Homo sapiens: one gene and its partners. The protein of the gene in region 2 purifies or fractionates together with the protein of the main gene of each other region. This does not show direct contact. Each region holds a gene or a part of one and is shown on either strand. Other genes may lie near its edges.

What was found. The genes of interacting proteins can lie anywhere in the genome.
Region 1: the proteins of HVCN1 (region 2) and ASAH1 purify together in Homo sapiens (affinity purification with mass spectrometry; one large-scale study listed by BioGRID and IntAct). This does not show direct contact.
Region 3: the proteins of HVCN1 (region 2) and KIF5C purify together in Homo sapiens (affinity purification with mass spectrometry; one large-scale study listed by BioGRID and IntAct). This does not show direct contact.
Region 4: the proteins of HVCN1 (region 2) and UQCC1 purify together in Homo sapiens (affinity purification with mass spectrometry; one large-scale study listed by BioGRID and IntAct). This does not show direct contact.

What each region holds. Positions count from the first base shown.
Region 1 is NC_000008.11:18,059,873-18,064,156, forward strand, and holds part of ASAH1 (acid ceramidase isoform a preproprotein), read right to left. Parts: intron 3,359-4,284; coding exon 3,313-3,358; intron 2,552-3,312; coding exon 2,407-2,551; intron 1,869-2,406; coding exon 1,814-1,868; intron 1,587-1,813; coding exon 1,505-1,586; intron 1-1,504. UniProt on the Homo sapiens protein: Lysosomal ceramidase that hydrolyzes sphingolipid ceramides into sphingosine and free fatty acids at acidic pH.
Region 2 is NC_000012.12:110,650,367-110,655,861, reverse strand, and holds part of HVCN1 (voltage-gated hydrogen channel 1), read left to right. Parts: intron 1-523; coding exon 524-628; intron 629-4,413; coding exon 4,414-4,645; intron 4,646-5,495.
Region 3 is NC_000002.12:148,877,678-148,881,961, reverse strand, and holds part of KIF5C (kinesin heavy chain), read right to left. Parts: intron 1-4,284. UniProt on the Homo sapiens protein: Microtubule-associated force-producing protein that may play a role in organelle transport. Has ATPase activity. Involved in synaptic transmission. Mediates dendritic trafficking of mRNAs.
Region 4 is NC_000020.11:35,307,239-35,311,522, forward strand, and holds part of UQCC1 (ubiquinol-cytochrome c reductase complex assembly factor 1), read right to left. Parts: intron 1-4,284. UniProt on the Homo sapiens protein: Required for the assembly of the ubiquinol-cytochrome c reductase complex (mitochondrial respiratory chain complex III or cytochrome b-c1 complex). Involved in cytochrome b translation and/or stability.

The sequences.
Region 1 (4,284 bases), on a different chromosome or scaffold from region 2:
ATCTAAGTTTCAAGCCCTACATGCATTAGGTATTTGTCCTAATGCTCTCCCTCCCCTTTCACCCCACCCCCTGACAGGCCCTGGTGCGTGATGTTCCCCTCCCTGTGTTCACGTGTTCTCTTTGTTCAGCTCTCACTTATGAGTGAGAACATGCAGTGTTCGGTTTTCTGTTCCTGTGTTAGTTTGCTGAGGATGATGGTGGGAAACATTTTTAGATGACTTAGAACGGAAATGTTTAGCTCTGTAGAAACTAAAGAAAAACAAGTATCTAAGGAATGTGTTATTTATTTATTTCTATTTTTAGAGATGGGCTCTCACTCTGTTGCCCAGGCTGGTCTCGAACTCCTTGGCACAAGCGATACTCTTGCCTTCGCCTCCCAAAGTACTGGGATTACAGGCATGAGCCACCATGGCCAGCCACAATGTGTTTTCTAAAAAAGGATGGTGAGCAATGCCTCTGGGAAAAGCAATCCCTGACCCTGTATGGTGAACACTGAGATGGGAAGCGGGAATCTTAGGAAGCCCCTCTAATCTGAAGGAGAAACAAAGTGGCCTCAAGAGATCATCTTCCACCCTTACTGTCCATGCCTTTCACTCAACAACAGAACAAAGGGAAATAATATTACAGTATGTAGGACTTAGAGAACAGAAAGTAAACCTTCTTGAAAATTAGGACTATTAAAAATTGAAGTGGGTTATCAAAGAACACTACTAACATTAAATCTTATTCCCTGGGAAGTATTAAAAATAGGATTGATGCCCATTTATTTGGACGCAGTGCTGGCTGAATGAAGGAAAGGCAGTTTTGCTATTGTAAGATTTCTATACCAAGGCAAGATATAACTTACAGGTTAATATGTAGTACATTTTGTATTTATTTATTTTGTTTTTTTAAGACAGAGTCTCACTCTATCACTCAGGGTGAAGTGCAGTGGACTGATCCCAGCTCACTGCAGTCTCGACCTCCTTGGGCTCAGGTGATCCTCCCACCTCAGCCTCCTGAGTAGCTGGGACTACAGGCAGGCACGTGTCACCATGCCTGGCTAATTTTTGTATTTTTTATAGAGACGGGGTTTCGCCATGTTGCTCAGACTGGTCTCAAACCCCTGGGTGCAAGTCATCTGTCTATCTCAGCCACCCAAAGCGTGAGGATTACAGGCATAAGCCACTGTGCCTGGTCTGTACTACCATTTAAATGAAGATTTTACTGTATGACTGTTCTTTTGTGTGTGGGTCATTTTTTTTCTGTACACCAAAAATATTCATAGGTGCCTTTCATAATGTCAGTATCCCTAGTGCTTTTTAAGTAATTCATTTATTTGCTATAAAACACACAGTCTGCACGAAGAAAACATGAGTAATTCCACATGAGTGTCAGAGGTTCACCTAAGAAATTCTGCAATAGTTCCTCAAAGGATTAAGCTGGAGCTTGACAAATATTTTTATTTTTTAATATGAGTAATTTAAAATAAATATTTAATAGTAAAGCAACGAAACACTTTACCTTGTGCTATTTTCCAGAACTGTTCTAGTGAGGAACCCTATCCACATGACATCTTTCTTTCCCAGAATCCATTCTAGAATACCTGGAAGAGATGAACACAATGTCAGGAACCGGAAGAGGTGACACTATGTAACCAGTCAGGACCCGGAAGAGGCTGGACTATATAACCAGTCAGGAACCAGAAGAGGTTAGACTTTGTAACCAGTCGGGAACCGGAAGAGGTTGGACTTTGTAACCAGAAGGCACAGTCCAGCCTTCCTCATAAAAAAGCTCTGAGATTCCCATTTCACTTGAGAATGCTCTACTTACCCAGATAACCACCATTTATACTGAAACGTTCATTCAGTGTAAGACTGAACAGTCCCTGAGAAAAAGACAAAGCAACGAAGTCAGAAACATCAACCATGCGCTTTAAGGCCCTGTCGCTCACTGTACTTCAGAGTGGGATATAAAGGCCTAGCTTGGGTAATGGGGAAGGCAAAAATAAATCAAAACCATAAAAGGCTTTTTAAAAAGTTCAAAGCATTTTTGATTCTAGTATGTGAGATAAGTAGGTGGGGTATCACTGGCAACGCTTTTTGGACAGGAAACTGAAGGGCAGAGAATGAACGCCTGACTTGCCTAAGTGAGCGGAAGACCCAGGACTAGAAATCAGATTGTGACTCCCAGCCCTTGACACCCAGCCACATGCTCTTTATCCCAGAAGAGGCTCAGAAACCTCCGTTTCCTTTCTACTCTTCTCTACCACGAGATCTCATACCTATGAAGTGACAAGAAGTACAAGGGGGTGAAATGGGGCTTCATATTCCCTTTAGGTCCTCATATTCTTAGATTTCAACTTTTACATAACGGTAACAGGACAGAAGGCTACCTGTATAATTATGTAACAACAGACTCCTTACTGGTTTGAATCCTGTTAACATGCCCACATAGCCAGCAAAGCTTGAAGCCTTGAAGACAGTTTTGTTGTTTCTTTGGAAATCCAAATTCACTGTTAAAGGTTTTAGTTGCTCAGTTATGACCCAGGTATCATTATTTATGTTCCACCTATAAAAGACATGTTTCAGTGACATTTCAGAAACACAGTGATAGTAATGATCAACATGATGATGAGGGCCAGGCATTACACTAGGAGCTTTATTTACCGAGTCACCACGATCAATCCTAACAAGACCTTTACAATATGGTATATTTATTCTGTTTTCCAAATGATAAAATTGAGGTTCAGAGAAGTCAGGTAACTCTCTCAATATCACACAGCTTATAAATAGTGAGCCTCAGATTCAAACATAGAATGCTAATTACAATATTCTTATTTTTTCAGAAAGGTCAAGATGGACACATAAAATAGAAGAGCATGTCCCTCTTGTCTCAGCACTCAAGCAATCCATTTATCTTCACTTATGATCACATTTTGGGTGTGACTTGGGACTTACTTATCATCAATATAACACAACCTACTCTTCCTACAGACCAAAACAGTTCTGTGTTCTTTTTTTTTTTTTTTTTTTTGAGATGGAGTCTGGCTCTGTATCCCAAGCTGCAGTGCAGTGGCGCGATCTCGGCTCACTGCAACCTCCGCCTCGCAGGTTCAAAAAAGTCTCTGCCTCAGGCTCCCAAGTAGCCGGGATTACAGATGCCCACCACCATGCCTGGCTAATTTTTATGTTTTTAGTAGAGACGGGGTTTCACCATCTTGGCCAGGCTGGTCTTGAACTCCTGACCTCGTGATCCACCCGTGTCAGCCTCCCAAAAAGCTGGGATTACAGGCGTGAACCACCATGCCTGACCCTTTGTTCTTTACTTACCCAAGAAATACTCCAAAATCCATGTTTCTCCCATGTATTAGATGACCTATTTGAAGGTAGACAGAAGAGACGTGTAATAGCAGTTAAGATTCTAAATCAAAGCTGGACAATTAATTTTGATTAATTAATTTATTTTTGAGACAGAGTCTCGTTCTGTTGGCCAGACTGGAGTGCAGTGGTGCGATCTCAGCTCACTGCGACCTCTGCCTCCCAGGTTCAAGCAATTCTTGTGCCTCAGCCTTCCACGTAGTTGGGATTACAGACATGTGCGACCGCACCTGGCTACTTTTTTTTTTTTTTTGTATTTTTCTTTTAGTAGAGAAGGGGTTTTACCATGTTGGCCAGTCTGGTGTCAAACTCCCAACCTCAGATGATTCGCCCGCCTCGGCCTCGCAAAGTGCTGGCATTACAGGTGTAAGCCACTGTGCCTGGCCTCTAATTTTGATTAATTTTTATTCACAACTGTTTCTTCAAACAATAAGAAGTAAGAAACATCCTAATATCCTAAGCCTTCACCAGATGGGACTGTTGTCACCGTCTATCTGCCAGATAACCCCACAAAATCTGAGAGCACGGGTTTCCAGGTAAGATCAGAATATGGGAAAAGGAATCAATGGTCATGTTTTGGTTCACTATCACATGGTTCTACCAGGACACAGAAATCGGAGCCTCAATTACTGTGATTCATCAAATGTTTCCCTTCAGGCATCATCCCCTAGAGCAGGACATCTCAAGGGTAAGGTACAGGCAGATTTATACCCAGAGTATAGGTCAAAGATCAGGGTGAGTTAGCGAAGTTGTCCTGTGCTTTGTACTCTGGGAACCAGTCAGGAAAAATACGGGAAAGTGAGGCTGGTATCCATTGGGTTGCCTGGCTGGGAAAGGATGGGAGAATGTGTGTTCTGGGCCTCAAGAAAAGGACAGATGTCATGACATACACGAAGATAAGGAAGCACCTCCTGCGAGCACTTC
Region 2 (5,495 bases):
ATGGTGGTACGTGCCTGTTATCCCAGCTACTCGGGAGGCTGAAGTGGGAGAATTGCTTGAACTCAGGAGGCAGAGGTTGCAGTGAGGCGAGATCATGCCACTGTACTCCAGCCTCGGTGACAAAACAAGACTCTGTCTCAAAAAAAAAAAAAAAAACTGATTATTTGTTGCCATCTAGGTATGGGCAGTTTGGTTTGAGAGGTGGTATTTGGGAAACAGTGACCAAAGGTCAGAAAATGAGCCAGAGATGTTCTGGGAGGGCAGGGAAGGTGGGCAGCGCCTAGAGGCAGAGCAGGCCAGGAGGGTGGCGGGAAGGAGGCTGGCAGCTTCTATCAGAGAGGAGCTGGCCCTGCACAGCCTCCATCCTGGTGGGGCCTCTGGCGAGCTATAGCAGTAGCCTCCCATCCTTAATGGCTTTGCCCAGTGGTTTCACCCACGTGCTTCCAAGCCAGCTCTTAATGATGGGAGAGGGAGGGCCTCTGTGGGGGTCTCATGATCTCTGGCACCTTCCCTCGGCCCACAGGTCATCATCATCTGCTTGGTGGTTCTGGATGCCCTCCTGGTGCTTGCTGAGCTCATCCTGGACCTGAAGATCATCCAGCCCGACAAGAATAACTATGCTGCCATGGTAGGGGTTGACAGCTCTTCTGGGGTCTTACTGATATGTTTTGCTTGTGTTATCTGCACAGACGGGGTGCAGAGTGGAGCAGCTGACACCCCACTTGGAGTAGCAAGGTCTGTGGTAGTTTGATAGGTGTTTTCGTCTTCCTTTCCAGAATATGGATTAGCATTTACTACAAGCAGGAAACGTTGTTTCACATGATGGCTGGAATCCTGGGCGATGCTAGGCTAGTGAGCTGGAGCATGTGGGGTGGATCCACTCTGCCATCTCTGGGTCAGGAGGGGCATTCCTCCTGTCTTCTGTTGATGGTCTGCATGGTCCCCTTGCTGGGCCATCAGGGGATCTGCTGTTTATTCACTGATTCAGTTACTGAGCCCATCCCAGATGTTCACCCAAAGGGTGGTGGACATACCCTGTCTCAGTTCCAAGGGCGGAGATCAAGAGAGTTAAAATCATCCCTGGTTGGGCATGGTGGCTCACACCTTTAGTCTCTGCACTTTGGGAGGACAAGGCGGGTGGATCACCTGAGGTCAGGAGTTCGAGACCAGCCTGGCCAACATAATGAAACCAAATCTCTACTAAAAGTACAAAAAAGTAGCTGGGCGTGGTGGCATGCGCCTGTAATCCCAGCTACTCAGGAGGCTGAGGCAGGAGAATCGCTTGAACCCCAGAGGCGGAGGCTGCAGTGAGCCGAGATAGCGCCACTGCACTCCAGCCCGGGCAACAAGAGCAAAACTCCGTCTCCAGGAAAAAAAAAAAAAAAAAAAAGCATTTCCCCCCCATCCCCCGCCATGCCCTTTTTTGGAAAAACAAAATGGAATTGATATGCAAATGTATGTCTTTGCAAGTGGTGAAAACGGCAGAATATGAAACTTCCTCCTTCTTCCTGATACCTTTCCCAGAGGCAGCCCTGTGACATCTCCTATGCCAGCATAGGAGGAGAATCTTCCCTGTCCATCTGTTTTCTCCTAAATAATTGTTTTCATGTTTCTCAGAGACTGGGTCTTGAACCCCAGGGCTCAAGTGATCCACCCACCTCTGCCTCCCAAAGTGCTGGGATTACAGGCGTGCGACACTGCACTTGGCTCTCTTCCTCTATTTTTAATAGAATCCATTAACATACCTGCCATACTTATTGTCTTTTTTTCTCTCAACTTTTTATGAAAAATGGCAAAGACACATTTTGCTGTGTTTGCTTTGTCACTATACATCCCCACGGACGCACACACGCTTCCGTCTGGCCATTTGACTTCACAACCCTTCACTCCTAAATACTTCAACGTGCCTAATAAGGTTTTTCTCCCATGGAGCCATAAGAGCACCATCAGATCTAAAATAAGATCAATAGTCCCACCTAACAACCACTTTTATTCACTCATCCCAAATGTCTCTCTTTATTTTTTTGAGACAGTCTCTATCGCCCAGGCTGGAGTGCAGTGGCACTATCTCATCTCACTGCAACGTCCGCCTCCTGAGTTCAAGCGATTCTCCTGCCTCCAGCTCCAGAGTAACTGGGATTACAGGTGCCCGCCACCACACCCAGCTAATTTTTTTATTTTTAGTAGAGATGAGATTTCACCATGTTGGCCAGGCTGGTATCGAACTCCTGACCTCAAGTGATCTGCCCACTTCGGCCTCCCAAAGTGCTGGGATTACAGGCAAGAGCCACCGTGTCCAGCCCAAGAATGTCTTTAATGGCAGTTTTTTTCAAACTAGGATAGAGAATTCCAATATTCTATTTGGTTATGTCTCCTTGGAATTTTTAATTTTTTTTTTTACTTGAGACAGAGTCTTGCCCTGTCACCCAGGCTGGAGTGCAGGAGCACTTAACAGCTCACTGTAGTCTTGATCTCATGGGCTCAAGCCTTCCTCCCGCCTCAGCCTCCTGAGTAGCTAGAACCACAGACATGCACCACCACACCCAGCTAATTTTTAAATTTTTTGTAGAGACAGGGTTTCCTTGTGTTGCCCAGGCTGGTCTTGAACTCCCAGGCTCAAACAATCCTCCTGTCTTGGCCTCCCAAAGTGCTGGGATTACAGGTGTGAGCCACTGCACCCGGCCTCCCTGGGCTTTCTTAATCTAGAGAAATCCTCCTGCTTTTCTTTTTCCTTCATGACAATGACTCTTGGAAGAGCCCAGCCAGTAGAATGTCCCATGTTCTGGATTTGTCTGATGATTTTGAGGTCTCCTGCCTTGTTTCTTCATTTCCTGCACACCACGGTTAGGTCCAGGGCTTGATCAGCAGGGAGTCTTCATTGGCTGGCGATGTTCTGGATGTGGCATTTTCAGGAGGCACACCACGCCAGGGGTCCCACTCAGTTGGGTCACTTGCTGGACTGCTCCACTGGCCAGGGGCATTTTTCCCGTTGCAGTGGTAAATGATCTGCCTGGTACTGCTTTGGTAGCATGCAAATATCCTCTTCCCCAGTTGGCATCTGTTGGTGAAACTTGCCTGAGTCAGTGACTACACTAGGGAATGCAAAATGGTGATTTTCTGTCTTTCCTTCTACATTTAGTAGTAGGTACTCTTCTATAAAAAAGCACTTCCCTGTTTTCCCATGTGTGTATGTATGTGTGCATGGGTGTATGTGCCGCACTGTGAATTTTTTTATTCACTGTGTTACAATCAATCTTAGTCATTCTTTTCAATGTTCAGATTGTCCCAAATGTTGTCACTGTGAGCCTCTTCAAGTTGACTGCTGGGTCCTGTTGACATGACTCTGTGATGTCTTTGAAGACTTCCTTGCTGGCAAAAGACGTCCTTGCCCACATTGTACCTCCCCTGCCTCAGATCTGGAAATGGTTATCTTGGTGTGAGGACTGGTTATTTTATTTTATATTTTTATTTTTTGAGACAGTCTCACTTGTCACCCAGGCTGGAGTGCAGTGGTGCAATCTCGGCTCACTGCAACCTCTCCTCCGTGTTCAAGCAATTCTCCTGCCTCAGCCTCCCAAATAGCTGGGACTACAGGCATGCACCACCATGCCTAACTTTTTGTATTTTTTTAGTACAGACAGGTTTTCACCATGTTGGCCAACGTGGTCTCAAACTCCGGGCCTCAGGTGATCTGCCCGCCTTGGCCTCCCAAAGTGCTGGGATTACAGGCATGAGCCACTGTGCCCAGCCAGGACTAGATCAAGATCTTGGAACCCTTTTCACTTTACACCACCTTGGTGATCACTCCTAATTGGAACATATGGATCTGCCTCCATTCATTCATTCATTCAGTTATTTTAGAGATGGGGTCTTGCTATGTTGCCCAGACTGGCCTCAAACTGGGCTCTTGGCAGGAGGCCCCACCTAGCCTCCTGAGTAACTGGGACTATTGGCTCGAGCCACCACACCCAGCTTAATCTTTTTAACAAGTGTGTCCTTAGGGCCCCATATGGAGGTGTCACCATTCATTTCAAGAGTAACTTCTAATGGACATTTCTGTCTAATGGACATTTCTGTTGTCTTACAATGCAGAAAGTATTTGTTCTGCAAACAGTGCTGCAGTAAATATCCTTAGTCCCTGTGCACACAGGAGCTCAGCTGTAGGGTAAGTTCTTAGCCATGGAATTGCTGGTCCAAAGGGTCTAGAGGATGCTTTAATTCTGACATTGCCTAATTGCCCTTTAGAGAGCAGGTGCCTCATCTGTGGTGTTCACAGCTGTGTTTCCAGCACTGGGCATCTGGATTTGTCCACCAGAGGAATTCTCTTGCTGGTGACCAGGCAGGTGCATGTGAGGGCAGCTTGACCTCCCAGAGGCCCAATCTCCCCTGACTGTGGTTCCTTGTCCCCTTCAGGTATTCCACTACATGAGCATCACCATCTTGGTCTTTTTTATGATGGAGATCATCTTTAAATTATTTGTCTTCCGCCTGGAGTTCTTTCACCACAAGTTTGAGATCCTGGATGCCGTCGTGGTGGTGGTCTCATTCATCCTCGACATTGTCCTCCTGTTCCAGGAGCACCAGTTTGAGGCTCTGGGCCTGCTGATTCTGCTCCGGCTGTGGCGGGTGGCCCGGATCATCAATGGTACGTCTCCTGCACTCCCAGGCTGTGGATGGAGAGTAGGGGCCCAGGCATACATCCAAGGCCTGACTGCGCAGTCACTCTGGGTGCCTGAGCTCACAGTGGCTCCTGTTATGGAGGCCTCCCCTCTGCCCCCTCACCTCCCTCTCCTCCCTTCTTCCTCTTCAGCCCTTTAGGAGCTGGTTATAAGCAGGTTTACGTCAAGCAAATAAAATGAAACAGGTTGGGTGCAGTGGTCATGCCTGTAATCCCAGCACTTTGGGAGGCTGAGTCAGGAGGATCACTTGAGCCCAGGAGTTCGAGACCAACCTGGGCAACATGGTGAAACCCCCATCTCTACAAAACAAAAAATACAAACATCAGTTGGGTGTGGTGGTGCACACATGTAGTCCCAGCCACTGGGGAGGCTGAGGTGGGAGGATTGCTTGAGCCCAGGATTTGGAGGCTGCAATAAGCCAAGATTGTGCACTGCACTCTAGCCTGGGTGACAGAGCCAGACCCCATCTCAAAAAAAAAAAAAAAAACTGGACTCTTGTCAAAGGAAAGAAAAAAAAGCCTTTCAGTTCCTACAGAAGATGCCTGTTATGGGGAAAGGGGGCATTTCCCAGCCTGTGCTTTCGTGGCATCTATGGACACCGCTGTTGTGCACCCACATGATTGTGAACAGGTTCTAGGTTAAGAATCCTAATGCTCATCTTGTCAGTGATTATTTTTAAGGATTTCTCAGCCATGCCAGCTAAAGAGAGATACTGTGTAACTGGGTACTAAGTAGCTCAGACACAAAACCCTGACCTCCCAGTTCTGATGCCCTAAAGTGATGACTGTCTCGCGTGTCTGTCACCACTCCTCCAAA
Region 3 (4,284 bases), on a different chromosome or scaffold from region 2:
GAGACTGGATCTGTCAAGGGGCTTTATTTTTTTGAACTCAAGAGAAACCATTAGGGAGTAGGCAATTTGTTTTTGCTTTTTTTTACATAAGTAGACACAGGTGGGAAACTGTTTAGACGGGCTCACATCACCCCATAAACAAATAGGTTTGGTCCTAGCCTTTCTATTAGCTCTTAGTAAGATTACACATGCAAGCATCCCCATTCCAGTGAGTTCACCCTCTAAATCACCACGATGATTTAGAGGTAAGGACTAAAGGGAAATCAAAGGTAGGGGGAGGTTTCCAACTGTGAATGGGAAGAAGAGCTGAGAATGGAAAACATCATTAAATAGGGGAGTCGGGCCAGACAAGCACAGGTGAGGCAGAGGGAAGTCTCCAGTGATACCCAAGTTATTTACAGAAATGCAGAAATTGGCATTTATGGAGTCGTGATTTCAGGCAGGGAAAGGGGGAAAAAAAACCTTCAGTCAAGATACATTTACTAAGCAATTACACAACTACAGTAAAGGAGACAAAAATTTAATTAAAAAAAGAAAAAGAAAAAGCTACATGGGAAGATATACACACGCACACGCACACACAAACATGCATGATCACAAAGGAACAGCTAACGTAGTCTAGAGCTAAATGAAATATGAGTTTTGCCTTCAAGGATAGTTAGAAATACCAGAAATAGATGAAAACAGTGGGTATTCCAACCAGGAGAATGGGGTGAACAAATGCCTAAGAAATGGTAATGCAAGAAGGGTTTTCAGGGGATAGCCAGAAGGGGCACTAATTTGTGGGGCCAAAGCTAATGTTGACATGAGGAAGGTCACCAAGGGAACAGGAGACATAGGAGGTAATCAGCGCCTATTGAGCATTTTCTCTGTGCCAGACACTCTCTCACCACTTCATTTCATTTCATCCAAATGACCCTGTGAGGTAAGTAATTATTATCTGCACTTTCAATACAAGAAAACTCATGCCCAGGAAAGCTCAGCAACTTGAAAAAAAAAAAAAAAAACTAGGTTTTTTTTTAGCTAGTGAATCTACACTCGGTTTTGTCTCACCCTTCCTGCTACCTCTACCCACCCCATTCACTGACTGTGTGCCTACTGTGAATAGTGAGTGGCCTCAGTGACACACGCCAGATTACAGCTCTCTATGATGTTCCCTCAGTCCATGATTTCACAGGGTACATGTGAAGGAAACCACTAACCCATTTCAGGTGATATAAACATCTCTGAATTTAGGGCACAGAGGAATGAAGAACTGATACATCCTGACACTACTAGACTAGAATGCACTTAGACAAAGTGACTAAATAAACTTACTTTGGTTTAAAATGTTACTGCTTTTAGATGGAAATGCAAATTGGTACAACCACTTTAGAAAACAGTTTGGCAGTTTCTTACAGAGTTAACCGTATGGTTACTTTACAACCCAGCAATCCCATTCCTGGATATTTACCCAAGAGAAATAAAAATGTATACTCACACAGAACCTATATGCAAAGGTTTATAGCAGCTTTATTCATAATCATACCAAACTGGAAACAAGCCGAGCATGGTGGCTCATGCCTATAATCCCAGCACTTTGGGAGGCCAAGGCAGGTGGATCACCTGAAGTCAGGAGTTCAAGACCAGCCTGGCCAACATGGTGAAACCCCATCTCTACTAAAAATACAAAAATTAGCTGAATGTGGTGGCACACGCCTGTAGTCCCAGCTACCTGGGAGGCTGAGGCAGGAGAATTGCTTGAACCCAGGAGGCAGAGGTTGCGATAAGCCAGGGTCACACCACTGCACTCCAGCCTGGGTGACAGAGCAAGACTCAGTCTCAAAGAAAAAAAAAAAAGTGGTATTACTGCGTGTAAATTTGAAAAAATTGTTTTAATGTTATTGCTTTGGAAGACCATTACTGTGGAAAGAAGAAAAGTTTTAAGGTGTAGCTGTATTTCTTCACTTAATCTCTAAAATCCTAACTCAGGCGCGGATTTGGTCTCCAGGCCCCTTCCCCATCCATCTACTGCCAAGAAATAATCTAAGCTTCTGAAGACTGGGGCCACTTTCCAGCTTAGGGTTTGTGGCTGATGTTTTGCTCTGGCTCTTAGGCCCTCAGGAGGAAGCACTCATCTTTAACAAGACCTGCTTTCTCAGGACTGCAAACAAGAGAAAAGCCCAATAAGAGGAAAGTGAAGTGTGAAAATCCATTTCAAAGAACTTTACTGAGAACTCACCATGTCAGAGAGCTTCCATTAATACAGTTGCTTCAAAACCAATAGGCAGAACCCAAAGTAATGGATGACTCACCAGGACTTTTAGCAGCTAATGGAGTACTCTGAGAAATGCTGTAAATCCAATATTTTTGCTGAAAAATTAATGTGTTATGGGAGGGAGCCTCTTTTCTAATCACTTACCCACCCCCACCCTCTACTTCTAGTTCACCATCAGCATCTTTAGCTCTTCTAATTTTTGCCAAAGCTGAATGCAGTTCTTTCCCAATTTTCTTATATCATTTTAAGTATTATATATGCTATCTTACCAGGCCCACTCAGAGAAACAGCACTTATCTTTAAAATTATTTTTTAACTACTCCCCACAGCCTACGGCCAATAAAAACTCTGTAAACTATGTTAAATATACCAAAGTAAAGTTTCCAGAATTCACAGAGAGATCGATAAATATTTACTAAGTGCCTTCTACAGACAAAGCCCTGGGAAGTATAAAGGAGCAAAACATGCACAGTTCTTGTCTCTAAACATGGCTTACAATGTCATTAGGCATATGACCAAAGCTAATAATAATCCAAGGCAAAAAACTTGGGAGATCATATACAAAACAAATGCTATAGGAGTTCAAAGTGGGGAAAGACTGTGGCTGGTGTGGTCAGAGAAAGACAGCTTTGCACAAAGCTGAAAAACTGCAGGAGTGATGGAGAACATTTCTCCCAAACAGGACATTTTCATAAAAGAGAAATCTAGAAACTCCACCTGTAAAATCTCTTTCTTGGAATATATCTCCATAACAAACAGAACTTTAAGGGAAAAAATGACCCCAGTTTCAAAAACACAAAGAATTTCTGGGATTCTGAATTTGGACTAACAGATAACTCCACCAAAATTCATTCTTTACTTGTCTCTGTTTGAAGGTGACATATTTCTGGATGATCTGGGCTTCTTTGGTCATCCACAGTCTGTGCCCCTAGAACTAAGGAAGGTTGTGTACATCTCAGACAGTTTTCACTTGCAACTGAGCCATGTCAGCCGGCTCCAACTGAATTGACTTGGGACCATTCTACTCATTGCATATGGCATGATACAGACTGCCAGAACCCTCATTTCCTTTAGTGCCACATTATCAATTAGGAATGGGAAGGATCCTGGCACATGCCAACCCAACTCCCAAACCCTTCAGTATCTGGCAGTCTTCTATTCTGTACATGCACTCACCAAAATATACATAAACGAATGTTCATAGCAGCACTAGCCATATTAGCCCCAAACCGGAAACTATCCAAATATCCATCAACAGTCAGTAGACAAATTGTAGTATATTCATATCATGGAATACTACAAAACAATGAGGATGAATTTGACAAGCATAACACTTAATCCCAAGAAACCACACACAAAAGAGAACATACTCTATGGTTTTATGTAATATAAAGTTAAAAAGAAACAAGCAAAACTAATAGCATCAGAAGTGAGAATCATGGTTACCCTGAAGCAGGGGGATTTAGGGACTGGAAGGGCCACAAGGGGGATTTCTAGGGTCCCAAAATGTCTGTTTCTTAGTCTGTGAGGTGGTTACAGGGAGCATTTACTTTATGAAAAGTCATCCAACTGTATACTTATGATAACAGTTTTCTATATGAATGCTTCATTTCAATAAAAAGTTTACCTTAGAAAAACTGAAAACTGTTGTATTAAAGGATTATAGTAGGATGAGCAAAACTTACTTTACGGTTGAAAAGCAATGTGTATATTCACATCTATGATTTTTATTTAAACTTCTTATTTAATATGGTGACTTGGTTTTAATTTGTTTAGCCACTAATATATGTTTATTTAGATAAGGAAATATATACTCATAGCAATGTCATATTAAAGAAGGATAATTCTAAAATTAAGGAGCTCTGCCTTGCATACAGGTCAAGGAAGATGATTTATTACTTCATTTCATTGGTTCTGGAAGAAGAAGAGGAGGAGAAGGGAGAGGGGAGAGGGGAAAGGGGATGGGGGAGGAGGGAGGAGGGGAGAAGAAAAACTTCTTCAGGCTCTTCAAAACCTCTGGGAAAAAA
Region 4 (4,284 bases), on a different chromosome or scaffold from region 2:
TTGGTCCAAGGACCAAGGCAAGGCAACTGGTCCTTGGGGGAAGGGAGCCAGCTACCTTGTCTTCACTCTTACCCAACTCTGGGCCCAGCCTCTCCCTAAGTAGGGGAACAGGATGTTCAGCAGGATTGCTGGGGCCACAGAGGGCCAGGCTCAGAGCTTGCATGTGTGTGTGTGCCTAACGCTGCCTCTTTTGGCAGAGGAGACTTCTGTTGGGAAGCTTAAAGATTACAGAGCAAAATAAGAGCCCCAGCCACCAGCTAAGGACATTTTCTAGCTTGGACCTCTAGAGGAGGGAGGGCTGAGAGTCTTGCTTCCTGGGGTGAAGGTGGCTGATGGAACAGGCCCTGAGAAGTTGCTCTGTCCAGGTGCCAAGGTAGTGTGTGGAATCGATGTGCTGACTTGGAGTTAGAAGGGAGATCAAGTCCTAATTCCACCTCTGCCAAGATCAGTGATGGTGGCAGCTGACTAAACCAAAGTCTCAATCTTCTACTTCTTCAAAACAGATGAAGTTACCTGCTCTACTTATAGCATTCTTGAACTATTTGTTAAGTGTAATCTGTTGGATACAAAGATTAGGAGCATGCTTTGGCAGACAGCGGGGATACAGTCAAAACCGTGGGGTCTGGGAGCCAGAGCACAGAGTTCGAATGCCAGCTGTGTCACTTGATGGCCATGCGGCCTTTAAGAAGCTATTAGCCATTCCTGAGCCTCAGTTTTTCATGAGTCAAACAAGCCTAATAATACCTATCCCACAGAGTTGCTGTGAGAATTAAGAGATACTGGCCATGAATGGCTCTGTAAGTGGTAAACATTACCCAAAGACCCAGGATCACTTTATTCGACATTTTATTGTGGTCTGTCCTCTTGGGCATTGTGGTATGTGAGGTCTGGCTCCAGGCCTGCTGCCAACAAGGGCCATGTCCAGTATGGGGTGCTGACAGTTTGGTAGAAAAACATTCCACCTGTTCCAAATGCTCTCTGATAAACCCTCCTTACGGTTCCACAGCTTAGGACTGTCCTGGCACAATGGCTGAGTCAGGAAAACTGGCTTTTTCTGGCACATGGGGACAGGAGCAGAGGACAAGCTCAGGCACATCACCCTTCTGCAAACGATTTGCTAGCACAACAGCGTGCCTGTGTCTGCTGTGCCTGGGCACATGCCAGAGCGCTGCTGGCAGCAACCCACATGTGCTGTGCAGAAAGGAATGGGATTGGGAGCGCGTGTTATGGGGACCTGGAGAATGGGCAGAGCCCAGGATGGGAAAACAGGCAACTTTAGCAGCGGGTGAGATGGCTGGGAAGGGGCAAATTCATAATCAGGAATTCCTGAGCCATCAGAAGGAAAAGGATGACTCAGGACCCACTAATAGTGAGAACAACCCAACTGTTTCAGACTGTTAGGGTTCCCTCACACGCCTAGCTCCTAATGATTATGTTTGCCAAGTAGAATAGATATTATATTCCCATTTGCTTTGCTTTGTTTTGTTTTGTTTTGAGATGAAGTCTCACTCTGTCACCCAGGCTGAAGTGCAGTGGCATGATCTTGGCTCAATGCAACCTCTGCCTCCCAAGTTCAAGTGATTCTCTTGCCTCAGCCTCCCAAGTAGCTGGGACTACGGGCATGTGCCATCACACCCGGCTAATTTTTTGTATTTTTAGTAGAGACAGGGTTTCACCATGTTGGCCAGGGTGGTCTCGAACTCCTGACCTCAAGTGATCTGCCTGCTTCGGCCTCCCAAGTGCTGGGATTACAGGCGTGAGCCACCGCACCTGGCCTATATCCCCATTTGAAAGATAAGTAAACTGAGGCTTAGAGGCTAGCTAACTGATGGCTGAACTAGAACCAGCATGCATTGATGAGGTGGGGGATGATGACTGACCCACTCTAGTCAGAATACAGAACCTGGCATAGAGTGGGAGAGCAATCAGAATGGCTGAATACCCAGCACTTTGGGAGTCCAAGCTGGGTGGATCACTTGAGCCCAGGAGTTCAAGACCAGCCTGGACAACATGGCGAAACTGTTTCCACAAAAAAATATAAAAATTAGCCAGGCATGGTGGCACACAAGTGTAGTCCCAGCTACTCGGGAGGATGAGGTGGGATGATCACCTGGGCCTGGGGAGGTTGAGGATACAGTGAGCTGTGATCACACTGCTGCACTCCAGCCTGGGCAACAGAGTGAGACCCTGTCTTAGGAAAAAAAAAAAGAATAGCTGAATAAATCAACGAACACAACTTCAGCCTTCTTCCCACCACACTGCTAGTGTAAGGCAGTGAAAACAAATGAGAGACTAATCTGAGGGTGCACATTTCAAACTAAGAAAGCAGAACTGGAAGAAGGGTCCTGGGAACCAAACATGAGGGCACAGCATAATTTCCCCCCAATCTAATCGGGTGCCTACTTGTTTTCCCTCGTGACACAATGAAGCATCCTTCAGAAATTAAGACACCTAGGTCTAGAGTAACTGAGAGGAAGCCAAGGGGATTGTTTCAGCTTTGGAGGGTTCTAGTTCTGATTAAGGGTTTAAAGTGGCAGAGTTCCACTCAGTGAAGATTGATTTGACATCACTATGTGCTCAGCATGATGCTAGGAACACAAGAGTCACAGCAATATGGTCTGAGCTCTCAGGGAACTTGCAATCTAGCTGAAGGGACAAAATCAGTGCACATCTAACAGCAGCACAGAGTAAAATCCCGGAGAATGAACACATGCCAAGCTGCACAGTGAGACTCAGCTACACTCTACATGGCTGCCTCCTTGTTCTACAGTCTTAGCTTTTATGACAACTCCTCAGAGAGATCTTCCTGGTCCACATCAAGTCATTCCCCCTGTTGTTCTCTCTCACTGCACTCTACTGTAGTTAGATATTTACTGCTTATCTGCTACTTGTTTACTATGTCTCTCAATTAGAAGGTAAGCTCTAGTGGGAAAGAGCCAGACCGTGTTTGTTTTATTCACCAATATATTCCCATGTATCACACATGGTAGACACTCAAAAGCTACCTGTTAAATGGATAATGAATAGATGGATGGGTGTGGAAATTCACAGTAAAAACACAAGCGATCCAGAGAGGTCAGGGAAACCTTTCTGAAGAAGTAGGCCTTTAAGAATTGGGAGGATTTAGCGGGTGTGGTGGCTCACGCCTGTAATCCCAGCACTTTGGGAGGCCGAGGTGGGTGGATCACGAGGTCAAGAGATCGAGACCATCCTGGGCAACGTGGTGAAACCCTGTCTCTACGAAAAATACAAAAAAAATTAGTCAAGCATGGTGGCGCCTGCCTCTAGTCCCAGCTACTCAGGAGGCTGAGGCAGGAGAATCCCTTAAACCCGGGAGGTGGAGGTTGCAGTAAGCTGAGATTGTGCCACTGCACTCCAGCCTGGCAACAGAGTGAGACTCTGTCTCAAAAAAAAAAAAAAAAAAAAAAAATTGGGAAGATTTGGAAAGCTGCAGATTTTTTTTTTTTTTTTTGAGATGGAGTCTCGCTCTGTCACCCAGGCTGGAGTGCAGTAGCGTGATCTCAGCTCACTGCAAGCTCCACCTCCTGGGTTCATGCCATTCTCCTGCCTCAGCCTCCCGAGTAGCTGGGACTACAGGCGCCCACCACCATGCCGGGCTAATTTTTTTTTTTTTTTTTTTCAGTAGAGACGGGGTTTCACCATGTTGGTCAGGCTGGTCTCGAACTCTTGGCCTCGTGATCTATCCACCTCGGCCTCCCAAAGTGCTGGGATTACAGGCGTGAGCCACTGTGCCTGGCCAGCTGCAGATTATTCTAAGCAAGAGAAAATATTCAAAATATTTACAGAGGGAGTGCCTACAAGGTACACCAGGCCCTGAACCAGACCCTAAAGCTGACCAAGACTCAGCTACTGCCCTCAACCCCTCATTGTTAGGTAGAGTCTCAGTCAGGCACAGCATGTCTATAGGGCAGTAAGGCAAACGGCCTAAGAGAGAGCACAAGAAATATAAAGGCAGATAGGGCACATAGCAATGGCAACAGTTCACAGAAGGCCTGGAAGTTCAGGGAGCAATTTGGACCTAATGTCACAGAAAACAGGGAGGTTCCCAAAGCGTCCAGGGAGGGGGAACAATCCAAGCAAGATTCTAGGAAAAGGTTGCTGTAGAACAGCGCTGTCCAATAGAACTTTTTGTGACTATGGAACTGTTCTGTATCTGCACTGTCCAAGATGGTAGTCACATATAGTAACTGAGTACCTGAGGATCTGAATTTTCCATTTTATTTAATTAATTTAAATTAAAATAGCTGCATGTGTTTAGTATCA